7 linked regions of the Homo sapiens genome follow. The protein of the gene in region 1 purifies or fractionates together with the protein of each later gene. This does not show direct contact. Each region holds a gene or a part of one and is shown in the gene's direction. Other genes may lie near its edges. The genes, in order: EFNB2, DNM3, LMBR1, DPH1, DENND6A, DIP2A and MTMR1.

Evidence for each region.
Region 2: the proteins of EFNB2 (region 1) and DNM3 purify together in Homo sapiens (affinity purification with mass spectrometry; 3 studies listed by BioGRID and IntAct, with this or other methods). This does not show direct contact.
Region 3: the proteins of EFNB2 (region 1) and LMBR1 purify together in Homo sapiens (affinity purification with mass spectrometry; 3 studies listed by BioGRID and IntAct, with this or other methods). This does not show direct contact.
Region 4: the proteins of EFNB2 (region 1) and DPH1 purify together in Homo sapiens (affinity purification with mass spectrometry; 3 studies listed by BioGRID and IntAct, with this or other methods). This does not show direct contact.
Region 5: the proteins of EFNB2 (region 1) and DENND6A purify together in Homo sapiens (affinity purification with mass spectrometry; 3 studies listed by BioGRID and IntAct, with this or other methods). This does not show direct contact.
Region 6: the proteins of EFNB2 (region 1) and DIP2A purify together in Homo sapiens (affinity purification with mass spectrometry; 3 studies listed by BioGRID and IntAct, with this or other methods). This does not show direct contact.
Region 7: the proteins of EFNB2 (region 1) and MTMR1 purify together in Homo sapiens (affinity purification with mass spectrometry; 3 studies listed by BioGRID and IntAct, with this or other methods). This does not show direct contact.

Annotation. Positions count from the first base shown.
Region 1 is NC_000013.11:106,515,163-106,518,662, reverse strand, and holds part of EFNB2 (ephrin-B2 isoform 1 precursor), read left to right. Parts: intron 1-3,500. UniProt on the Homo sapiens protein: Cell surface transmembrane ligand for Eph receptors, a family of receptor tyrosine kinases which are crucial for migration, repulsion and adhesion during neuronal, vascular and epithelial development.
Region 2 is NC_000001.11:172,404,498-172,407,997, forward strand, and holds part of DNM3 (dynamin-3), read left to right. Parts: exon of another isoform or gene 1-3,274; coding exon 3,275-3,344; 3' UTR 3,345-3,500. UniProt on the Homo sapiens protein: Microtubule-associated force-producing protein involved in producing microtubule bundles and able to bind and hydrolyze GTP. Most probably involved in vesicular trafficking processes, in particular endocytosis.
Region 3 is NC_000007.14:156,725,684-156,729,183, reverse strand, and holds part of LMBR1 (limb region 1 protein homolog), read left to right. Parts: intron 1-463; coding exon 464-540; intron 541-1,176; coding exon 1,177-1,254; intron 1,255-3,346; coding exon 3,347-3,420; intron 3,421-3,500. UniProt on the Homo sapiens protein: Putative membrane receptor.
Region 4 is NC_000017.11:2,033,153-2,036,652, forward strand, and holds part of DPH1 (2-(3-amino-3-carboxypropyl)histidine synthase subunit 1), read left to right. Parts: intron 1-352; coding exon 353-505; intron 506-626; coding exon 627-690; intron 691-2,817; coding exon 2,818-2,939; intron 2,940-3,376; coding exon 3,377-3,500. UniProt on the Homo sapiens protein: Catalyzes the first step of diphthamide biosynthesis, a post-translational modification of histidine which occurs in elongation factor 2.
Region 5 is NC_000003.12:57,683,078-57,686,577, reverse strand, and holds part of DENND6A (protein DENND6A), read left to right. Parts: intron 1-3,500.
Region 6 is NC_000021.9:46,531,891-46,535,390, forward strand, and holds part of DIP2A (disco-interacting protein 2 homolog A), read left to right. Parts: intron 1-236; coding exon 237-347; intron 348-1,633; coding exon 1,634-1,757; intron 1,758-2,113; coding exon 2,114-2,223; intron 2,224-2,694; coding exon 2,695-2,797; intron 2,798-3,500. UniProt on the Homo sapiens protein: Catalyzes the de novo synthesis of acetyl-CoA in vitro. Promotes acetylation of CTTN, possibly by providing the acetyl donor, ensuring correct dendritic spine morphology and synaptic transmission.
Region 7 is NC_000023.11:150,734,896-150,738,395, forward strand, and holds part of MTMR1 (phosphatidylinositol-3-phosphate phosphatase MTMR1), read left to right. Parts: intron 1-568; coding exon of another isoform or gene 569-604; exon of another isoform or gene 605-806; intron 807-1,699; coding exon 1,700-1,885; intron 1,886-2,346; coding exon 2,347-2,553; intron 2,554-3,500. UniProt on the Homo sapiens protein: Lipid phosphatase that specifically dephosphorylates the D-3 position of phosphatidylinositol 3-phosphate, generating phosphatidylinositol. Could also dephosphorylate phosphatidylinositol 3,5-bisphosphate to produce phosphatidylinositol 5-phosphate.

The DNA of each region.
Region 1 (3,500 bases):
GTGCAGAAATAGATCAGGCGACCACTGCCTCCGTCCATTTCCCAGGCACCCTGTGAGACCCGATAATGCAATACAGGTCAGCAGAAAAGTCCAGACTTGACATCCCAACGTGCCATGGTCTGGTCTGTGAATGAAAATCACATGAGGTGACCTCTGAACTCTAAGTGGCTGGTTTATGTTTTCAGTGTATTAGGCCCGTGTTTTAAACAAGCATGTGCTCGTAGTGTAGGTTAAAACTTTCTGTTGTCTTCATTAATTATGCTGTGTTCTAGTCTATTAATATTAAAGAATATTGTGTTGCATAATGACTAATTTTTTTATTTTTTGGAGACGGAGTCTTGCTCTGTCACCCAGGCTGGAGTGCAGTAGTGCGATCTCGGCTCACTGCAACCTCCGCCTCTCGGATTCAAGCAATTCTCTGTCTCAGCCTCCGAGTAACTAGGACTACAGGCGCCCGCCACCATGCCCAGCTAAGTGTTGTATTTTTAATAGAGACGGGGTTTTACCATCTTGGCCAGGCTGGTCTTGAACTCCTGACCTCGTGATCCACCCGCCTCAGCCTCCCAAAGTGCTGGGATTATAGGCGTGAGCCACCACGCCTGGCAACATAAGGACTATTTTTTAAAGTTTTTACAATTATGACTGTGAAGTTGAAATGTCTAAATTATTAGAGATCCAGTTTAGATTACTAAATATTTATGTCTAATTGAGATGATTAGACTTAGCCAAAGTATCCATGTAGAAGTATTAGAGTCTAGATTGGTGAAAAACTTGAAAAAGCTTGGCTTAAGTTCAATAGGTAATCCAAGAGTAAAAACAGATTCCAATATCAGATCTTTTCACCATAGTCATGTTAAGTTTGGAAGCCCTACTTGAGTGTTTCCAGTTTTTTCCACATTATATTGTGTCTATATTTGATTCAAAGGCAGGGCATCTATTGTCTTGCTTAGGACTGATTCACTGGGAAAAGCCACTGGAGTTGCCTATTTCCACTCAGTATGCCTCACTCTTAGAGTAGCTTCCCATGGTTCCCAGGCAGGCCCTCCAGTGAGAATGCACCAAGCCACACGCCATGGCCTGGGAAGCAGTCCTGAACCTGGAGATTGTCTTGATGGAAAGGAAGAGGCAGCCTTCCCCTCCCAGGAAGATAGTAGAGAGCCTGCTCTGACTTCGCTCAGGGATGGAACTGGTCTGGCTCAGTTCTCTCTCCTGTGTGGGACATGAATCACTCTTGGTGGTCTTTGCTTTTTATTTGGGCTTAAAATCAGCAGACTTTATTAAATGACACCTCTCTCTAACCACTCTCTGTCTGGGCGAAGTTTAACAAGAACAGCCTCCCCCCATGTGGTATGGGTTGTAACTGTGGCGGTTTCCCTCTGCTGTTTTTGGTTACAAGATGAACATTATCTGAACACACAGAAAGAAATCTGTATTTGGCATCCATAATGGAAAGTCAGTTTAGTAATTTAAACTTAGCCAGTTATCATCATCATAATTCTTTTTAACACTTTCAAAGTCAGCATAGGAGAAGTGTATTGTTGAATATTACAAAATATTTAGGGCATAGATAGATGTGCTGTGTAGTTTGATTTGTTAATGTGTCTAAGCAATCAAAGCAACAGAATTCAAATATAAACCCCATCACTTCCAAAATAGGAACTCTGTTTACTGACTTGATTATAACATATGGAACTCAATTGTTTTCCATTAAAAAATGATACTATTAGGAAACTCACCCCATTTTCTTTTCATATATATTCTGCTATTTGCATAATTGTCTGGAGTCCATATGTAATATTAAATGTAAAACACAAATGCCATGTAGCTGGTCTGTTTCTTCCTCACCTTTTGGTTCCTGGCCTCCTGGGGAAGGGTTGCACATCTGAGCCGTGGTCTCAGATGACTGCCTCGGAAGAAGCCTCTTCCCTTCAGGCACCACTGATGTGTGCTTGGTGTGGAGCTAGACTTTCCCTGGCTCTCCATGTGACGCTCACATGTGCGTGTCTTGATTTCCCTTAACTTCATGGCTTATCTATGAACAGCTTGATTTGGGGGAAAAAAATGTGTTTCCCAATGCTGGAGTTATAATTGAATGTGCTGCAGTCAAAACTGAAATGTGTGCAGAGAAAGGGGGCTTTTCCTGTCATGCTCATTGGGCACCAGTGTGTCTTCACCTGTTTTGTGTGTTAGGTCCATGCGTCATGCTGAAATGAAGAACATGGGATGTATGGGGCTTTGGACAGTGCTGAGCCAAAAGCAAGTGCTCAAAAGCAGCTGTGTTTGTATTATTAGTGGTTCTGGAGGTGGCTGATTGCCTTGCATTTTAAGTAGAGAGGGATTGTAGAAGACTGCCAATACTTAGAACTTTTTCCAGAGAGGAAGGGTCAGAAACTGCATCTGCAGGGCTCCTTGCTCTCCAGAAATGCCAGTGTGCCTGGGAGGGCATCTTCAGAAATCCAGTCTCTCCTCCTCAGTGTGTCCTGTACCGACTCAGTGGTTCTGTCTTCAGAATTCCTATCATGTCTGTGATCTGCAAATAGTGGTATTTAATTTGACTTCAATTTGTATAAATGTTAGCTTCTATTTGTTCATTCCTATTTTTTGTTCAATTAATACATTATTTATTGAGCATCTACTCTGTGTCAGCCCCTTGGGTGTTTAATACTGAATTAGTCACATGTGGGACTTGCCTGCCCTCAGGGAGCTAGACTATAAATTCCTAATGATCAGTGGTCTCCACTTTTCTGTCACTCATAATGTCTGGCACAACATAGGTTACTTGAGTTGTTACACTCACAGTACTGTTGTTTGCTGCCATGGTGCTTTAGGAAGTGTGAGAGTTCCCGGGAGGCAGAGTCAATAATGCAGACTACACGTAGTGAAAACATGGCCAGGAGAGCTGTAGTTCAGGCTCTCAGCTCAACTGCACTCTGTCCACTGAGAAGCCATAATTTCTTCACTTAAAGTGACTGTGCGCTATGGCTGTTTATATATACGCTTAAAAAGTAAAAGCTGCTAAACCACTCAAGGATTGGGGCCTTTTGTATTGATTTAATTAAAGGAACAATCATTGTTTTAATGAGCTCTAGAAACAATTACTTTTGAAGAGCCGAGGATCAAATTCTTGCCTCACGTTTTGCCACAGTGTGTTCTGAAAGGTGAATTAATGCTTTTGGAATCATCAGGAATAGTGAGCTTTGTCACGATTTACTTTTTACAAGCGTATCTAATATGCATATTGAAATGTGAGCCTCCCCACCACACTTCCGCTTTGATAAGCATCCCCCGGATTGCCGTCACTGACCATTATAGATTTTTAACAAAGTTGGACAGTACACACTGAATGAAAACTTTACATCAAGGAAGGCCTGGCGTGTTTGTAAAATGAATTAAAAGGCTCATTAAATGATTTATATGACTTACGCCTTCTGAAAATATGGCCTCAAACACAGAGATCCCCAAAGCCACACCGACCCCTGCGTCCCATGTTCTCGACCTCA
Region 2 (3,500 bases), on another chromosome or scaffold:
TTGTGCTCTTGTCCCAGCCACATGGTCCAAGGATTAAAGCAGATATTAATGAGAATTTACTGTGCCATAAGAGTACTTAAGTCTTTCTATTCTCTATCCACACCATTGAATTTTTCCCTTCAATCGCCATCATTTAAGTTCCAATTTCACTCATTATAGACCTACATTCCTACTTCCAAGTTTTATATGCAGCAGTTACAATCATGTTTGCCATCACTTTGACCACATTATTGTATTTTCAGACTTCCCAGAGTGTATTCTCAGACTCCGAATTACAAAATTTTGCCCCACTTTTCCACTTAAAATGAAGTACTATAATAAAGCTACTTTCATATTTGTTTTATTCCACTCATCTTCCATTCTGAATAGATGCTGAGCTCTTTAAAGTCATGTAGCATGAAGCAGTCCACATATTAGATGCTCAATAAATAATCTATGCAATATATAACTGGAAGTCTTGACATAGATCATCTAGTCTGATTGTACAATTTGGCAACTGGAGCTAGAATCCACATTTTCTAACTTCTGATCCAGGACTCTTTCTATGTAAACATAGTATCTCAAATATAAGCTTCTGATAAATGCCTTAAAAGTGTAGCATCCTTGGCCTCGCTAGACCTACTCACCTTGATCTAGCCTAAACTCTAGCCTGGCTAAATATCTTGTTTAGGCACTTTTCAGTCATTTCTTCATTTGTCCATTATTCAACAAATACTTAACCACTGCTTTCTAATCACATTGTACCAAATGCTGAATACACATAATAAATGCAAAATATGTGGTTTCTTTTCTCAAGGAATTTTGAATCTATTTGGGGGACACTGGTAATAATCTAGTAAATAAATACATAATCACAAGTAGGGTTACGTGCTACGAGAGACACAAACATGAAGTCATAGGGGAAGGCAGAGGAAGTCAGGAAAACTATGGGATGGTCCAGAAGGACTGAGGAATAACAGTTAAGCCAAGAACAAAAGGATCAAGAGAAGTCAGTTTCATTCCTTTCTCTCTTGGCTACAAGCCTTGATCCAAGCTATCACATATTCATGAAACGATTTCCAATCCATCATGCCATGCTGTATCCTACTTCTCACTGAATTTGTAGTCTAAAATCAACTTTTTATTTAATGAAATCACCTAATTAATTCCATTATCAAAACTTCTGGTAGAATTTCCCTCCTTAAAGCTCAAATTCTGGCCAGTTCTCTCCTCCCACCAGCCAACTGGTTAATTGCTAAGAATACATTTCCATAGGTTACATGATTATTTGACAAACTCCCTGAGGGCAGGGGGCTTATTATTTGGTATTTATTCCAAATATCTACTAAAGAACTGAGCAGTTAGATACTTTAGAGTCACCAAGGATCTCAATCCTACATGTCACTTTAGCTACTTTTTTTTTTTTGCCATGGCCATGATTTACTCACAAATATCCTTGTATTTATAAGACCAATGAATATCACAAGCATTCATTAGTTATTTCTTGATTCTAGGAGGAACTTTCATTCATTCAGTTATCAAACATTCAGTGACTGAATGACAAGCAGTGAGCTAGATACCACAGTTACATGAAGATGATTAAGAGACAGCTCATTTCTCATCAGTGAAGATAACATATAAGCCTAATTAGAGTTCAGTGTGATGACTAATAATAGAGATTTGTTGAGATGCTATACAAACAACTGTATCAGGAGAGGGGAAGGCAGGTCAGGGAAGGCTTCACTGAAGTAAGTCTTAAATGATTAGTTAGTAGTCTCAGAAGATGACCAAAATGACATTGAGAATGTAATTGCATGTAACACCATGCTAAACACTGTATGAAACAAGTTAAGTGGGTGTGACCTGCGCCCTTCAGAAACTTCCTATCAAAGAAGAAAATTATGCAGATTCAAGATTCAGGACATAAGTTAAACATATATGGCCATTTTAAATGAAAATAAGGCTGGGTACCATGGCTCACACCTGTAATTCCAGTGCTTTGTACCTCCCCAAAGAAAGATTTCCTTTGAAGCCTCTTACACATTTTTCAAGTGCATGAGGTAAAAGGAATTCTACTAATATCTATGAGTTTGTGCCTAAATAGTTAATATTTTCACCATTAATCAACAATATCTCTCCTGCTTTGATTTTTCCTTGATCGTGTAATTTAATTTTATAGTTCCATGATTTTTCAACAACTATTTTTTTCAAAACTATTTTTCAAAACTATTTTTCATAATAGTTTTCTTAAATTTTTCTAACTTCACTTCTTCATACCTGAGAAAGGACATTCAATTTGATCAATATAGAGTTTCTAATACAGAAGAAAAATTTATGACTATAATTCCAGAAGGAGTCTTTCTGAAAAAATCAGTTGCAGAGTTTTATCAAAAAGAAACATTTCAATTTGTAGACTTTGTCAAATTTGGGGGGGTAAAAAAATGACTACCCAAGATACCATATATGAAGTCAAGTACACAAATACACTAAAAAAACTTATTAATATATTTAGGAAATAAATGTAGAAGCTTGAGGAATAAATAAGTAATAAATAATATTACTTGGTAATGTTGAGACTCTCAAATACAGTAATATTTCATTATCTAAAGTACGTTTGCTTAGTAAACTCAGCTACCAGAAACATCATTACCAACTAGAAAGTGAGTAATACTACTAATACCAATACTAAAGTCTTTAAGACCCAAAATAGGAACTAGAGCTCCTGCAATTTAAACAGGCACTCAACACTGAGCCTATTTACACTTGCTACAGAGAACTCTAAAGACTTGCTTTTCTGATTTTTAGTGCTCTGTAAATTACAAGCATAATATAGAACAAATTGGAGAAAGTCAAAAAGGCAATGAGAAGTGATAATAATATCCTGAAAGAAAAAGGAAAATTATATGTGAGAAATAAAAATTCAAAAGCCATCATTGTCTGAAACAGTATACCTTATTAGTTCCTGAGTTCATTCTATGTAATTATTATATTCTATTGGCTAAGATATGTGCAGTACGTTTCAGATGGCTTTCAAATAGTTTCATATTTCTTATTAGTATTGGAAGGAATGACTTCAGTTTTGAGAAAGATTTGCATATGAAAAAAGACGTAATTTTCATTAAAACTACTAGATAAATGAAAGGTGACAATGTTAAAATCATTACAGATCATAACCACTTCTGCTGGCCTGTATGTGCATGAGCATGTGTGTAATGGCTCTTTCTCAGTGTCCTTGGAACAATGTTCTGCTAGATATTCTACTTGTTTCTTTACCTTTCTCTTTTTCTCTTTCTAGCCGGAGACCACCCCCATCACCAACTCGTCCCACTATAATCCGCCCACTAGAATCCTCCCTGTTAGACTAAACGAAGTGTCTGGCATGGCAATTAATCACTAATGAATTATGCGAAAGCAACATATTTGATAACCGTTGCAGTAAATCATGAGTAGTCGCATGTGTGGACATCAGTAGGCAAGTAACCAGTTTTACTAATGCATTCATCGCTCATCTTCATTGCTCA
Region 3 (3,500 bases), on another chromosome or scaffold:
GTGTTTAATGTAGCAAACTGGTTTTAAAACTCTGATTTTTGTCTGGGTATCGTAGTTCGTGCCTGTAATCTCACCATGTTAGGAAGCTGAGCGGGGAGGATCGTTTGAGCCCAGGAGTTCAAGACCAGCCTGGGCAACATAGCAAGAACCTGTCTCCACAAAAAATAAATAAAAAAATTAGCCAGGCATGGTGGCATGTATCTGTAGTCCCAGCTACTTGGGTGGTTGAGATGGGAGGATCACTTGAGCCTAGGAGGTTGCAGTGAGCTGCGGCTATACCATTGTGCTCTAGCCTGGGTGACAGAGCAAGGCCCTATCTGTAGTTTTTTTAGTTTATGGAGGAAAATTAAAAGTAATTTATGTTTTTTAAAAAGAAATTATGTATAAAACAGATTATAGCATTATGGAAGGAAAATGTTAATTTGGAGAAAACTTTGTTTTATTTTGTTTTTCCTTTTAATAGAGAGGCGAAAAAAGGCTTCAGCATGGGAAAGAAATTTGGTGTATCCCGCTGTTATGGTTCTCCTTCTTATTGAGACAGTAAGAATTTATTTGCCTAGTTAAATAAAAGCAAATTATATTTTATTTACTTCAGCATTTGAGTATGGCAGCTCCCTCAGCTAAATGGTTTTTCATAAACTAGTTTTCTATCAACAGGATTAAAATCCATCTATGCCTTTATTTATGAAAATCCAATAAAGCAAAAATGGAAATTAATGGCAATTTAAAAAAAATTCTGAAGATTATCTGTTTCTTCATGAAAGCAGGAAATTCAGTCTTTGTTTTCATTGAAAATTAAGAAAACAAGGTGTTGCAGATAACCTGCTTTAAATTCTGTGATAAAATATGAAAATTACATTATGAAGTTAGTTCTGATAATATTTTACCACTTTTTTAAGTCTGTGGAGTTGTGTGTTTCCAATTGGTGAGATCACTTAGTAAAAGGATCTATATACTACCAGCTTTTGTCACAAGCTTTGAAATGACAATAACTTGCAGAATCTTTTAGAATTTCTTCAGTTCTTGTTTGTAGTCTGATTACTTTAGTTTTATATATAGCGTTTTGGTCTTGACTGCTTTCCCTCTATTCTGAAACGTGTATTTGGTTACCTAGATTTTAATATTTTGTATTGGTGAAAAATCTTGAGAGCTGACAGTTTGCTGTTTGTCTTGTAGTCCATCTCGGTCCTCTTGGTGGCTTGTAATATTCTTTGCCTATTGGTTGATGAAACAGCAATGCCAAAAGGAACAAGGGTAAAGTAAAATCCTTTAAAATGTCTTTCTTTTGCAAAAGTATTCTATGTCTATACCCTGAGTATTTCAAGTAAGCAAATGAAAACATTCACCTTTGTGCATGTATATACTTCAAGTTGTATGAATTTCTTTATGCAAAGAGCCTTTAAAATATAAACTGTGATTTTTGTTTCTAATTTTTTACTTTGGATTGACAGGGCCTTTTTTCAAGTGTTGGAATTTCCTTTTAGATTTCTTATCAGAGTTTATCTTGATTTTACTGAAATTCATTTAGCTATATGAAATTCCTTTAGCCATAGTCTTGATTCAGATCCCCCCACCTGAGTCTTTCCAGGACCTTGTGCCATCTGTTATTGCCATTGTTGTATTCACTTACAGCCTCTTCTCCATGAGTACAAGCCCACCATCATGCTCCAGGTGCCTCATCCTACAGACAGACAAGAAACTACCCTTTGCCATGTACAGTCTTATCTTTTTCTTTAGTTTTATACCCAAACCCACTGATAGAACAGGAAGTCGCTTACTATACTGACTTCCTAGTCACTTTTAACCCATTTTACTATACCAACAAAACAAGTCCCAAGCCCTATAGTATATTTTTGTACCCATCCCCCTTAGTGCTTAGTGGAGAATGACTTGTACGTCATAGGAGATCCCTGTATAATTGTGTAAAAAAATTAGATACTCTTAATCCTTCCTACATGGCTTCTCTTGAGATAGCATAATTCCAAAGTATTATCTCTGTTGATCAATAAGCTTCTGTAGGGGAGAAGAAGTAATACCTTTTTCTAACCTATTGGAAGGTTCATGGCTGAGATGCCTATAACAAAAGATTAATAAGAGAAAAGCTGACAAACTTATTTAAGATAAGTTTTACATATCACAGGGGTCTTCAGAAATAAAGAAGACCAAAGAAACAGAAAAAGCTGTGTACTTTTATGCTCTGGTTTGTTGAAGAGTGGACAGTAGTGGGAAGTATGATTGGAAGACAGGGGTGTGATCTAATGATTATAAACCGGGGGGATTTAGCAAGGCCTGTTCATATTCTTCTCGGTGTCCTCGTGTCTCCGGAGATAAACATGTGCTTCTCCTCTGGGTGGGTTGCGGGGGGCACCCTTGGATGGGGGTCTTATGGCCTGCTTCGCAGGAGAAGGAGACAGATCAGTGTGTGACCTTCCTAGGTTTTCTCAAATACCAGGTCCCAAATTTTGGAGTAGTGTGTCTTGAACCCCATCACTTTCTACCAGCATCATTTATTTCTTCTTCAAAAGATTGTCAAAAAGTTATTTTTTATTGGGCTGACTGTAGATTCTTAATTATCCCTGGTGTTTCTATTAGATGTAATCTGTGCTGACTAGTAAAACATTCAGATAGTTTCTTTTATTAGTAATCTTTGAAAATACTTCAGTAGGGAATGATTTTTTCAGATCTAATTATAAAAATAGTAACTTTTTTGTGTTTTTTTTTTAAGTTCTAGGTAAAGATAGTTTTTGAGATAGGGATAATTGTTTAGGAAAAAATTTATAGCATTACTTTTTTAAAAATCTATGTTAACAGTTACATCCTTTGTAACTCTGAATTCCCAAGGAAAATTTGGGCAAAGGAAACTTTCAGGTATGGGAACAGGATATGCACATTTACTCTCTTTCTACTCTTAGCTTAATTTTGACATACTTGAATTGTGTAATCTTTGTATATTGTGTAAGCATTCAGATAGCTATGTATCCTATTCTTATTTTTCTATTGTGTTTTTAAAAACTCTTTCCCAAAACTATTCAGGATTTTTTTCCTCAAGTGGCAAGTTGCCCCATTTTATAACAGTAAGCATAATCATGTCATCTTGACAAGTAACTTAAATTACATTTGAGATAAGTAATTTTTCTTGAGCTTATTAAAATTGTTAACATGGTGCCTGAATTTGTTGATGAAATCAGTCTAATGTCATGTCTTGTTGGCCTTTGAAAGTCTAGATGTTATTTCAAAGTAGTAAACATTCATAATTTCAACTGTCTTATTTTATGAAACAGCTGTTTTAGGGAAACCAATATAATGGTGTCATCAAATTCTGAAAAGTGTCTTTCTCCCACCCCAGGGGCCTGGAATAGGAAATGCCTCTCTTTCTACGTTTGGTTTTGTGGGAGCTGCGCTTGAAATCATTTTGATTTTGTATCCTTTCTTTAACTGAACGTTCAGCCTATCCACAAATTTTATACCAAGTTTTCTGGGGCAGTAGTTATTTACTAAGA
Region 4 (3,500 bases), on another chromosome or scaffold:
AATTAGTTGGCATTTTTCACCTGGTGGGGGGGTGGGTGTCCTGGTTTCTGAAAAACAACTTAGGGATATATGTCAAGGTGTTATGTGTAGTTTCTATAGGGAACCAGGCATCTCGTGACTCTGACTTGGGTGACTGTTGTTTATTATCTTCTTGTTTAGCAAGTTATTTAATTCCCTAATTGCTGGTTGTAGGGCTAGCTAAGATGCCTGGGATTTTTCTTGAGATGACTCAAAATTTTTATTTCTATGCTTGAGCGGGGGCACCGGCAGGCCCTGAAAAGGGATCCCTATTCCATCTCAATCTGGCTTCAGCCAAAGACAGACACCAACTCAGGCCTTATATCCATTCTAGGTCGGGCCCCTCGGGGCCGCGTGGCCAATCAGATCCCCCCTGAGATCCTGAAGAACCCTCAGCTGCAGGCAGCAATCCGGGTCCTGCCTTCCAACTACAACTTTGAGATCCCCAAGACCATCTGGAGGATCCAACAAGCCCAGGCCAAGAAGGGTGAGCCTGTGATCATTGAGCTGGGGTTGGGGTGGAGAGGTTGCCTGGCCCAGATGGGACAGTGTCCCCCTTGCAGCCCCTTCCTAGCCCTCCACCTCTCATGTCTCTGCTCGTCTTGCAGTGGCCTTGCAAATGCCGGAAGGCCTCCTCCTCTTTGCCTGTACCATTGTGGATATCTTGGAAAGGTGAGGCTTGGGGCACTGGAGAGGAGGGTGAGCCAGGCTTCCCCCACCCCCTATGCTCATTACCCGGGTGGGTAAAGCCCTGGTGGCGGGCATTTTTTCCTTCTGAACCTCCACCTTCCCCCTTTCCCTCCCACAACCATACACACACTCAGGGAAAACCCAAAACAAATCTCCCAGCTTGCTGAGAGCCCTGCTTGTCCCTGCAAATCCCCCCTCCCCTAAACATTTGGGACAGAGAAAGAAATCAATCCCAGTGTCTTCAAAGCTAGACCCAGAGCAGGTGGTAGGACCTGGGGAGGACCCTAAGAATTCTCCAAGCTGCCCCTGAAATGCGCTGAGTGATCAGTGGGAGGTCTGCCGGTCGGGGGCGGTGGGGGGCACCTGTTCCTCGGGCACATTTGGGGAAGTAGGGCAAGGATGGGTTTGGAGTGGGAGGTGCCTGGGAGAAGGTATTCAGTTCCTCTACATCCTACCCCTGTCACTCTAAGTTTCTGCAATACAATGAGCCATCCTTGGTGGGGAGGGTGAGAGCTCAGCCATCTGGAACCAGCACAGGAACAGGGGAGGGGAACGAAGAAAGGGGAGGTCATCTCATGCTGGGAACCTCCCACTCCCCTGCTGCCCCATCGCCCTCCCCTGCTCCTCCCTCCCCCTCCCCTTCTCCCCCATCCCCCTCCCCTGCTCCCCCATCCCCTGCTGCCCCATCCCCCTCCCCTGCTGCCACCCTCCCTCCCCTGCTCCCCCAAACCTCTCTTCTCCCCCCTTCCCCTCCCCTGCTCCCCCTCTCTCCCCTCCCCTTCCCCCTCCCCTGCTCCCCCTCCCCTCCCCTGCTCCCCATCCCCCTCCCCAGTTTCCCCATCCCCTCCCCTGCTGCCCCATTCCCCTCCCCTACTCCCCCTTCCCCCTCCCCTGCTCCCCCCTCCCCTGCTGCCCCCTCCCCTCCTCCCCCACTCCCCTGCTGCCCCATCCCCCTCCCCTGCTGCTGCCCCATCCCCCTCCCCTGCTGCTGCCCTCCCTCCCCTGCTGCCCCATCTTGTTGCCACAGACTCACTTCCCTGCTCCCACCGTCTTGCCCCTTGGGGATGCTCTCTGGGGCTCAGGCCAATTTGCATACATTTTAATCTATAAAAAATTAAGTGCTGTGGCTGACTTAGACGCCTGGGCTGCATTCTAAGGAGGTGAATAATCTGCTTCTGGGCACAGCCTGATTTGGGGAAGGGGGTGGAGGAGGGGGTGACTAGCAGGAGCTCAACTCTTCCACTGCCACACCCCCAGGGGAAGGATGGGGGGACCCCAGTCACTGAGCCAGGCTCCACGCCCCAAGTGTGAGTCTCTTTCAAGGAAGAGGGGGTTCTCCTCCATTCCTAGGGTGAGTTCAGGGGTACAAGGTCTTCCCCACCCACCCCCTCCCCCAGTGATTCAGGCCTGGCAGCAGTTCCCACGGCAGTGTTCTGGCCAGAGCCTCCTCTTCCTGATGCAGGAGGCGTGTAGGTGGTGCCATGTGCTATGGGGGAGCTGTGCCTGGGTCCCCCCATCCTGGGCACCAAGGGCCCTGCCTGCGGTGGGGAGGTAGTGGGGGTCCGGACGAGAGGGCCCTGCCTGTGGTGGGGAGGTAGTGGGGGTCCGGGTGAGGGGGCCCTGCCTGTGGTGGGGAGGGGGTGGGGGCCCTGCCTGTGGTGGGGAGGGAGTGGGGGTCCCGGCAAGAGGGAGGCTGTGTGTATTCATACAGCCACGCCCATGCCCACCACAGCACTCAGCGCGGGAGTGAGGACCTTTGGGTGTGTGTGCGTGCTCACGGCTCTGGGTGGGTGAGTCAGGGCATGGGGCGTCTGTGTTTTGACCCCACGTGTGCCGGAGTGAGGGTTGGGGTCCCTCCTGCAGCCTGAGCCTGGGTAGAGGAATGAGGGTCCTCACGCAGCAACAGTTCCAGGAGCGGCTGCCAGGCTGGGGCAGGCGGCAGCTGTGCCCCTCCTAATCTTTGTTGGCAGAAGTGGCAGCTGCCATCCCGAGGAACTGGGAGAGGTAGGGAGAGAGGAGCTGGGCCCTGAGACACCCTCCCAGGGTTGGGTCTCTCCTACCTCAGTCCCTGTGTCCCTGTCCCACCGTTCCCCGCCCCTGTGCCCGCAGGTTCACGGAGGCCGAAGTGATGGTGATGGGTGACGTGACCTACGGGGCTTGCTGTGTGGATGACTTCACAGCGAGGGCCCTGGGAGCTGACTTCTTGGTGCACTACGGCCACAGTTGCCTGAGTATGGTGGGGCCAGGACACCTGGACGGTGGCGGGGCTGGCAGGGAGGCAGGCTGCACATTCATCTTCCCCATGGCAGTGCCTTCTTGTCCTGCTTGGAGACACAAGGTCCCTCCTGGTTTCTGGGGTGGCCTCTGCCTTCCCGCTCTGCAGGTAGATCTTTCCTTTGGATTTGGTTGCCTTGGCAACGGTGCTCTGTCCCAGATGCAGGTGTTTGAAAGGCTGTTGGTTGTAGAGCAGGCTGGGCCCCGGCCGGGTGACAGAGAAGTCTGATTGAGAAGGAGCTTCTAGGGGATCTGTGACCCCCCTCTTCTCCTACCCTGTCCTTTTACCCCCAGGCTGAAGCCACTGCGCCTGGCTGCTCAGAGACCTGAGCCTGGCCGGGCCCTCTGCTGCTCCTGCCTTCCCAAACAGCCCCTGAACTCCTCCCTCCCACAGTTCCCATGGACACCTCGGCCCAAGACTTCCGGGTGCTGTACGTCTTTGTGGACATCCGGATAGACACTACACACCTCCTGGACTCTCTCCGCCTCACCTTTCCCCCAGCCACTGCCCTTGCCCT
Region 5 (3,500 bases), on another chromosome or scaffold:
CACAGAGACACAAAGTGAACACATTGTTGGAAAAATGATGCTGATAGACTTGCTTAATGTAGGCTTGCCACAAACCTGTAATTTGTAGAAACTGGTAACTGCAAAGCACAATAAAATGATGCACAATAAAACAAGGTATGCCTATATTAATAAAAGGAGAAGGAAGAATGGTATTGGAAGGCAACAAGCATTTACTGCCTTACCTGAGAGCAGTTATAATCTTATGTAATCAAAGATTTATTTTGAAAGATTTCTAAGCTTGGGTTTTATGATATAAACTTTAGTAACTTTGAGCTGTTTGAGAGCCAAGGGTATATGTGCCTGAAAATTCTACACCATTATGTAACTTTGAAATAAAGGATTATGTTCTGTTTTACCTGGGATATGGAAATATCTGTTAATGCTTATTGAAAATGAGGCTAAACATTTATATCTTGGTAAATTTAGGCTATTTTTGTATTATTGGGATTCTATTTATTTTGTTCTTCTTATCATAAGAATCATCTGGGGCATTTGTTACATATGAGGATTCTGGGGCTCACCCATCTGCTTAATCAGAATCAGTTCCAGAGGATCATTATGTGTAGGCATGTTTGGAGTATGTTTTTTAATTTTCTCTTTATATAAACTTTTCTGTTTTTCTTGTAAACCAGCTGTTGTCAAAATGTGGTCTGAGGACTTCTGGGCATCTCTGAGACCGTTTCAGGGGATTTATAGGATGTTTTCAAACTATGTATGGCTTTTCTTCATGTTCTTCAACCAGAACAACATATTGCAATAGAATGAACATAGAATGATTCTGCCAAGAGCAAACATTAAAGAAAAACAAATTTTTTTTTAAAAAAAAAGAATGAATGCTGAAGCAGATATGAGAATCTAGTTATTTCTGTTAAATCAGACATTAAAGATATTTGCAAACATGTAAACAATGCCATCTTAGTAAGGTTTTTGTTTTGTTTAGGAATACAGGTTGTGTGTTCCTAATCTAAACATTCAAAATCTGAGACGCTCCAAAACCTGAAACTTTCTGAGTACTGACATGATGCTTTTTAAAGGAAATGCTCATTGGAGCATTTTGGATTTCAGGTTTTTGGATTTGGGATGTCCAACTGAGTAAGTATAATTCAAATATTCTAGAATCTGAAAAGATCTGAGATCCAAAACACTTCTGATCCCACCAAGCATTTTGGATAAGGAATACTCAACCTGAATATAGTTACTTTTCATAAAAATTGAATATGTTAATGAGTAATAGGTTATTATTTTAAAATAAATAAACAATTTTTTTTAATGATACTTTTAGTTTCTACAGTGGTGAATGTTGATAGATATAACTCATATAAACAAGAATTCTAGGCTGGACGTGGTGGCTCACGCCTGTAATCCCAGCACTTTGGGAGGCAGAGGCAGGCAGATCTGCTGAGGTCAGGAGTTCGAGACTAGCTTGGCCAACGTGGTGAAACCCATCTCTACTAAAAATACAAAAAAAAAAAAAAATTAGCCAGGCATGGTGGCGCATACCTGTAATCCCAGCTACTCTGGAGGCTGAGGCAGGAGGATCACTTGAACCAGGGAGGCGGAGGTTGCAGTGAGCCGAGACTGTGCCATTGCACTCCAGGTGTGTGCCACCATGCCTGATTAAATTGTTTTATTTTTGTGTTGCCCAGTGTGATCTTGAACTCCTGGACTCAAGGGAACCTCCTGCCTCCACCTCCCAAAGTGTTGAGATCCCAGGCATGAGCCATTGTACCCAGCCTCATTTATTCCTTTCCGTCACTAATTATTAAGTAATATTTGGACTTTATTTATTTATTTGAGACAGGGTCATGCTGTGTCACCAGGCTACAGTGCACTGCAGCCTGGACCTCCCAGGCTCAAGCAATTCTCTCACCTCAGCCTGTCAAGTAGCTGGACTACAGGTGTGTACCAACATGCCTGGCTACTTTTTTGTTTTTTTGTAGAAACAGGGTTTTGCTGTGTTGCCCAGACTGGTCTTGAACTCCTGGCCTCAAGTGATCTGCCTGCCTCAGCCTCCCACAGTCCACCTGCCTTAGCCTTCCAAAGTGCTGGGATTATAGGCATGAGCCACCATGCCTGGCTTTAGACTCTTTTCTTGAAACAGAGTCTCGCTTTGTCACCCAGGCTAGAGTGCAGTGGCACGATCTCAGCTCACCGCAACCTCTGATTCCCAAGTTCCAGCGATTCTCCTGCCTCAGCCTCCTAAGTAGCTGGGATTACAGGCACGTGCCACCGCACCCAGCTAATTTTTGTATTTTTAGTAGAGACGACGGGGTTTCACCATGTTGGTCAGGCCGGTCTCAAACTCCTGACCTCGTGATCTGCCCACCTTGGCCTCCCAAGGTGCTGGGATTACAGGCATGGGCCACCGTGCCTGGCCCATAAACTCTTTTTTTTTTTTTTTTTTTGAGACGGAGTCTCACTCTGTCACCCAGGCTGGAGTGCAGTGGCACAATCTTGGCTCGCTGCAACCTCCACCTTCTGGGTTCAAGCAATTCTCTGCCTCAGCCTCCTGAGTAGCTGGGATTACAGGTGCCCACCACCACACCGGGCTAATTTTTGTATTTTTAGTAGAGATGGGGTTTCACCATCTTGGCTAGACTGGTCTTGAACTCCTGACCTTGTGATCCACCCGCTGCGGCCTCCCAAAGTGCTGAAATTACAGGCATGAGCTAAACACTTTTTAAATAAGGGAACTGGAACTTAAAGAGGTAACTTGCCCCATATCACTTGCTTAATAAGCCAGGATTTGAACCCTGGTCCTTTTGATTCTGAAGCCTAATTTCCCCCCACTATACTGTGTTGTTTACTATTTAGGGAAACTGAAGCAAAGAAGATGTGAAATGCTAGCGGTAGCTTGAACTAAAATTCTTAAATTCTTGGTAGTAATAGTTTACCTCATTTCTCAAAGTGTTCCTGTTTACATGCTAATACTCAGTGTAATAATAGTACCCAGGGCTATTTTCTGAGTTGTATGAACTGCTTTTAGCATTTTTGTGATCCTTTAGTTGGCAAAATGCTTTACCGTCCTGTGGAATGCACAGTAGATACTTGCTTCTGTTTGGACAAAAGACCAGCGTGACCTATGTCAATGACATAAAGTTGGATTTCCTGAAGGTAGGGTTTCTAACTGATAATAGTTTATAGCCATGGGCAGATGAAGTGAGATGATAATAGTTCTCATTTCTAGTGTATTGTGAGGATTAATTGATACAATACAGTGCCTGGCACAAGGAAAACACTTGATAAAGTTAGCAATTGTAATTATTTATTGAGTTTTTCTGAAATAATGAAATAATTACTCTTTTGGTCTAGTTTATTTGAATTCTATCTGTATTACTCATTTAGTGAATTCCTACCTAACCTTAAGCGTCCTTTGTAAGTAATACAGGATCAGTATGAGGGTAGCATCATTAAATTTTTGTTGGTACCTATTATAATAGGAGCACTGGGACCATTTGCATAGGCCATAATAAGTACCT
Region 6 (3,500 bases), on another chromosome or scaffold:
AATTTTGTCTTACAAAGTCAGCACTTATTGGTTATTCATTGTTGCGTGTTCTCAAAGGCCCTGAGTCAACTGTCTCTACTCAGTTAAATACTATTTGGACTTGTCCCTTATGGTTTCAAGCACAATTATTACAATATTTGGGGCTTACAAAAATTTTATTTATAACTAGCTTTTAATTTAACTAGATATTGTAAAAATTGGAAATTTGGAATATTCATTTCTTTGTCCTGTTGTAGGTGGCGCTCGTGTTTCCGAATAGTGACCCTGTGATGTTCATGGTTGCATTTTATGGGTGTCTCCTGGCAGAGCTGGTTCCTGTCCCCATAGAAGTGCCATTAACAAGAAAGGTAGCAAACCCATGGCTCAGGTCCCGTGTGGTTCGCTTCTGAACTTGATACCAGCAGTATCTTACTTCCTTTTCACTCATGTGGGCAGGCAGCAAGCAGCTGTTTTGACAGAGGAGAGAAAGCTAGTAGTCAACAGGCTGGCCAGGACTCAAGAGAAATCAGATGCCGTTTTGCCTGCCTCTCTTCTTGTTAATGAGAGGGGCACTGAGAACCGTTTTGCTGGTGATGCTCCCACACCACACTCTTATTAGGTGGAGCTGTTCTATCATCTACATGAATTTCCCAACAGAAATGATAGCCATTTTTTCCTCTAATGAATAGAATTATGATTCAATAAGATTTTGTTCAACTTTTCCTCAAAACCATATGTTTATAGAAAATAATTATTATTTCTTAGGGATAAATATATCATTACAGTGATATAGCTCACTTCTCAGTGGCAGTTTTGAATAAACGAGATGGAAATTATCTTGCATTTCTGTTCACTTATATGACCGTAGGCAGTTTCTGTTGCTGATAAATTATTAATGTGGGGTCTTGCTGATCTAGGTATCTGTAACATTTTTGATATAACTATCAATAATATGATTACTGAAAAAAAATAGACAAGGCATGAATTTGAGAAAATCAGTTTTCTGTCATCCTGTCCCAGAATTCAGGCAGTTGTTAACAGGAGCATTATCCAGAAATATTCAAGAATCCCAAAAGTAAAATTTGCAAATCAAACTAGTGTATCTCAAAGCATAATATGTGATGGGCAGGTATTTGAATGCAGTGGTTCTTAGGAGTAAAACTAGAGATTTGTCAAATTTATATGAAGAAAATGACAGAATACTGCTGAGGGACACAGAAGACTTGGCTACAAGGAAATGTGTTTCTGTGTGGAAATAATTTAATATCGTTGGTGACCAGGCCTCTCTAGATTAATTTGTAAATTTCAAACATGATTCAATAGAAATTTCAATGCCATTAACTTTGGAGTTTATTAAAAATGCTTCTAAATGTCATTTGTAAGAATAAACTTTGAGAAATTAGCCCATTAAACTTTATATTTCAACACAAATACAAACCAAAATTATCTTTTAAATTTAAACATAGTTGTCACATTTTCATGAACTATTTCCGTGAAAAGATCATATATATCAATAATGGGACTGAATTATTCTGGAAGTTTTATGAGGGATGAAAAAAAGATCTGTTCTCTGTGCATGGCCTGGAGCACCAAGGGTCTGGGGCTGTGGCTGCTGTGAGCACCCCACCCCACACGGTCACTCTGCTTTCTGCAGGATGCAGGCAGCCAGCAGGTTGGGTTTCTGCTGGGCAGCTGTGGAGTCTTCTTGGCCCTGACCACAGACGCTTGTCAGAAAGGCCTCCCCAAGGCACAGACAGGAGAGGTGGCAGCTTTCAAAGGTGAGGCCTCCCAAGGGAAGGGGAGTCAGTGTTCTGACTGTGGTCTGTGTTAAATGCATGGTGTTCCAGAAATTAAACATGACAGAGGTGTCTGGGTCTTCAGCAAAAGTGATCCCTTGTTCGAGTCCTTGGTGAATCTCGGTTTTCATCTGGCTTCATGTCTCGACCTGTACTGTCTAATGTGGTAGCCACTGGCCGGATGTACCTTTTTAAATTATATAAAATGAAATGAGACTAAAACTTGCACTCCTTATTCGCTCAGTAGCTAGTGCTGCATGTTGGAGGCGCAGGCTTCGAGTGTGGGGAGCAGATGCCTCTGACTGCTTGCTGTTCTGTGTCCTGTCTGTGTGTCACAGGTTGGCCCCCGCTCTCCTGGCTAGTGATTGATGGGAAGCATCTAGCCAAGCCCCCAAAGGACTGGCACCCTCTGGCCCAGGACACAGGGACTGGGACTGCCTACATTGAGGTAATGACTGTTCCTAACTTAGAGAATGTAAAAACATGTCCCACAGGCTTAAGTCTTGCTTTTCATAAGAATGTAAGTTGCTATTCTTTTTTGTTAAGTTTCGGCCTAAGAGTTCTTGTTTTATCTCTGCCCTGGAAATACAGAGTGTCATATAAATCCTTGCTCAGATCCTTCCAGGTTTCTCTCTCATCTAATTCTCTCCTAACTGGCTCCCTGGGGATGCAGACAGTTATGAGGGAGCCCATGGCGCACCATTACCCTCGGGCACCTGCCCAAGAGGAGCCACAACTTCCACTGAAGCATCCCCTCAGCGGCCAGGGTTTTGCCATGTACCTGGGCTGCTGGTTAGAGGCCGATGGTTAGAGGAGAGACACTGACCACTTCTTCTTTTGAAGATTCTACCAGTTTCCATTCTGTCTGTTGTCACCTCTAGAAATACCACATCATGTTTTTTTCCTTGAAATCTTTCAGTATAAAACCAGCAAAGAAGGCAGTACGGTGGGGGTCACAGTGTCCCACGCATCCCTGCTGGCACAGTGCCGGGCTCTGACCCAGGCGTGCGGGTACTCAGAAGGTAAGGGCTCTCGGGGGTGGGGCGGTGGCCCCTCCAGCCTCACACAGATACCTGACGTACCTAATCATGTGACTGTCACTGCACCTGTCAAAACCACCCCTGGGTAGTGCCTTTGCCCATTAATCCGGGTCATGCCAGGTAGGGAGATGCACTGTCTTTAGCATGCTTACAGGGTCTCTGTGGTTGTGCTGGCCAAGAGGGCACACGGTGTCTCTTAGCAGAGTCCAGACAACCCCATCAGGGTTGTTTTCAGTAAATGCACATGGATGTTGATTTTATGGAACATGGAACCTATATCCCACTGATTGATTTATACACAGTGCTGGGTTCACAGGCCTGCCCTGGGGGGCTGGCTTACTCTGTGACATACTGAGGGTCAGGGCATTTTTCATTCAAAAAGAGGAAAACACTTTTAGTTTTCTATTACTTTATCTATGACTGTAGTTTTGACCTCAGCTGTCATGGATATAAATATATAAGTAGAATCTTTATGGTTATAGATGATCTGTTGATAAAGTATAGTCAGCACCTGATTTACTTCAAATGTCAGATACTTAACTTGAGATATCTTTAAATTAATATTATTTAATTGATAAGTACTAATTGTATATATTTATGGGGTACACTGTGACAATTTTAAAAACTGTAAAAATGGACTCAGTAGTTTTCTTACATTGTAATACTAGAATTGAACAAAACTACT
Region 7 (3,500 bases), on another chromosome or scaffold:
TGGAACCTCAGAATGTGACCTTATTTAGAAATAGGATCTTTGCAGATGTATTAATTATGATGAAGCCATCTTGGAGTAGGGTTGGCCCTAAATCCAGTGCCTAGTGTCCGTATAAGAAAGCCATGTAGAGACACAGGCACACACAGAAGGAAGATGGCGATGTGGCAATAGAGGCAGAGATTTAAATGATGCAGCTAGAAGCTGAGGAGTGCCAAGGACTTCCAGCAACCACCAGAAGCTAAGAGAGAGACATGGAACAGATTCTTCCCTATACCCTCCTAAAGGAACCAACTCTGCCAGCACCCTGATCTCGGACTTTCAGCCTCCAGAACTGTGAGAGAATAAATTTTATGTTGTTTTAAGTCCCCCAGTTTGTGATAGCACCCTTAGGAAGCTAATAAAACCTCCTTACATTCCTGGGATAAATCCCACCCGTTCATGGTATGTGATCAGTCCCCTTCATATACTCTTGGATTGGGTTTGCTAGTATTTTGTTGAGGATATTTGCATGTATTTTCATAAGGGATGTTAATCTGTGGTTTTCTCTTCTTGTGATGTCTTTGTCTAGCTTTGGTATCAGGATACAGCTAGCCTCATGGAATGAACTAGGAAGTATGCCCTCCTCTTCTAGTTTTTGGATGACCCATCATCTCTTACCTCACCTACAGCAGGAACCTTGAAATTGGACTTCTGCCTCACACCCTGCAATCTCATCTCCACATTATGACCAGAGTGATCTTCTTTTTTAAAAAAAACTTATTGTTACTATTTCAATTGATAAATGAATTGTATATATTTATGGTGTACAACGTGGTATTTTGATTGTGTACACATTGTGGAATGGCTAAATCAAGCTAATTAACACACCATTTTTTGTGGTGAGAACACTTAAAATCTACTCTCAGCAGTTTTCAGATACAGACTACATTGTTATTGACTGTAGTCACCATGTTGTACAGAGTGATCTTCTCAGTGGACAACTCTGTGCACATCCCTCAGAGCCGCAAGGCAGTGATATCCAGGTTCCTGAACAGGGTCTCCAAAGCCCTCCACCCACGGGTCCTTTCCTTCCTGTCTCGCCACATCTTCCAGGTCCATGTCTCAGCTATGTGAGGTTCTTTTCAGTTCCTTAAGCACATCCCACTGTTAGCTCAGAGATATGTTGCAGTCCTAACTCCAAGTACCTATAAATGTGGCCTTATTTCACAATAGGGTCTTTGTAAATGTAATTAAGTTAGGATGTGGTCATATTGAATTGGGGGGTGGGGGTTAAGCCAAATGACTGTGTCCTTAGAAGAAGAGGAGAAGAGACAGACACAGACAAAGGAAAGAAGGTCAGGTGGAAATGGAGGCAGAGATCAGAATGATGTGTGTATAAGCCAAGAACACCTGGGACTATCGGAACCTGGGGCAGCCAAGGAAGGATCCTCCCCTAGAGTGTTCGGAGGAAGCATGGCACTGCCGATACCTTGAATTCAGACTTCCAGCCTCCAGAACTAGGAGAGAATAAACTTCTGTTGTTTTAAGCCACTGAGTTTGTGGTTCTTTTTCCAGCAGCCCTAGGAAACTCATACAAGGATATAGGAGGTTTATTTGCAGATGAGTTTGTTGCTTCTTTAGTGGTCTGTATCTCATAGCACTAGAAAGAATAGAAAAGTTAATTCCAGATAATGTGATGTATTTGTTTTGTTTTTCGTAGACAAAGGGTGGAGGATATGAAAGTGAAAGTGCTTACCCAAATGCAGAACTTGTGTTCTTGGAGATCCACAACATTCATGTCATGCGAGAGTCACTACGCAAATTAAAAGAGATTGTGTACCCTTCGATCGATGAGGCGCGGTGGCTCTCCAATGTGGATGGGACGCATTGGCTGGAATATATAAGGGTAAAGAGATCCAGCACTTTATATGCTTTCCAGTTAAGACTTCTTTGTGCCTGTGCCATAAATACGTATATCTCCAAGTGCCTCTTGGCTGTGTGCATGAACTTTCTTATTCAATAGTTTCCATGGACAGCATCAGACTGGGGTCTTTGTGGAGGGCTTTTGTGACATAGTGAAAAGGGAAAAATGCTTGCCTTAGGTCAGGCTTTTAAAGAACTTCGTGGCCCTTTAATAAGGAACCATATTTACTCCTGTAGTTTTTCTCCAGTATAAGATTTTTTCTTTTCTTTTTATTTTTTTAATGTGATGCTAATATTTCCTAGTGATTCTCAGCTGATTGCCTGCCATTCTTGCTTGGTTTATTGACCAGAACTTCCAAAGCTCTCCCCAGAATTATTTTACATTGTTTTACATTTAATTGAAATTCAATGTAGCCTGGTCTAATGTGCCTTTTTTTTCTGAAGATGCTGCTTGCTGGGGCAGTAAGAATTGCTGATAAAATAGAATCTGGGAAAACATCTGTGGTGGTGCATTGCAGCGACGGTTGGGACCGAACAGCCCAGCTCACATCTCTGGCTATGCTAATGTTGGACAGTTACTACAGGACCATTAAAGGATTTGAAACTCTCGTAGAAAAGGAGTGGATAAGCTTTGGACACAGGTTTGCACTGGTAAGTTCAGACAGTGAGGTTTATGCTGGACTGTTTTGCGGTATCATATGGATGTAAACGTCATGTGTGACACACGTAAGCGCATATATACACACACACGTGCAGGCTTTCTCTTCTGTATCATATCAGACCTGAATTGCCATAATAAAATACATGGACCTCAGGCATTGTATGTTCCTCATAGGGCGTTTTTATTTTAGTGTATTTATGCCTTTTTAAAAAATTGAGGTAAAATTCATATAACATAGAATTAACCATTTAAAATGCTCAATTCGGTGTCCTTTAGTAAATTCACAGTATTATGTAACCATCACCTCTAGTTTGAAAACATACTCTGGCCAGGCGCGGTGGCTCAGGCCTGTAATCCCAGCTCTTTGGGAGGCCCAGACAGGCAGATCACCTGAGGTCAGGAGTTCGAGACCAGCCTGGCCAACATGGTGAAACCCCGTCTCTACTAAAAATACAAAAATTAGCCAGATGTGTTAGCGGGCGCCTGTAGTCCCAGCTACTGAGTAGGCTGAGGCAGGATAATTGCTTGAACCTGGGAGGCAGAGGTTGCAGTGAGCCGAGGTCATGCCACTGCACTCCAGCCTGGGCAACAGAGCAAAACTCCGTCTCAAAAAACAAAACAAAACAAAAACCGTACTCTTCACCTCAAAAGGAAATGCTGTACACATTAAACAGTCATTCCTCACTTCCCCCAGCCCCTGACAACCACTAATATTTCTGTCTTCATATACATTTGCCTTTTCTAGGTACTTCATATAAGTGGAATCCTACAGTATTTGTCCTCCCATGACTGAGTTACTTCACTAAGCATAATATTTTCAAGGTTCATCCATGTTGTGACAAATATCAAATTTTCATGATTTTTTATAGCTGAATAGTATTCCCTTGTGTGTATATACCACATGTTGTTTATCTGCTCATCTGCTGATGGATGCTTG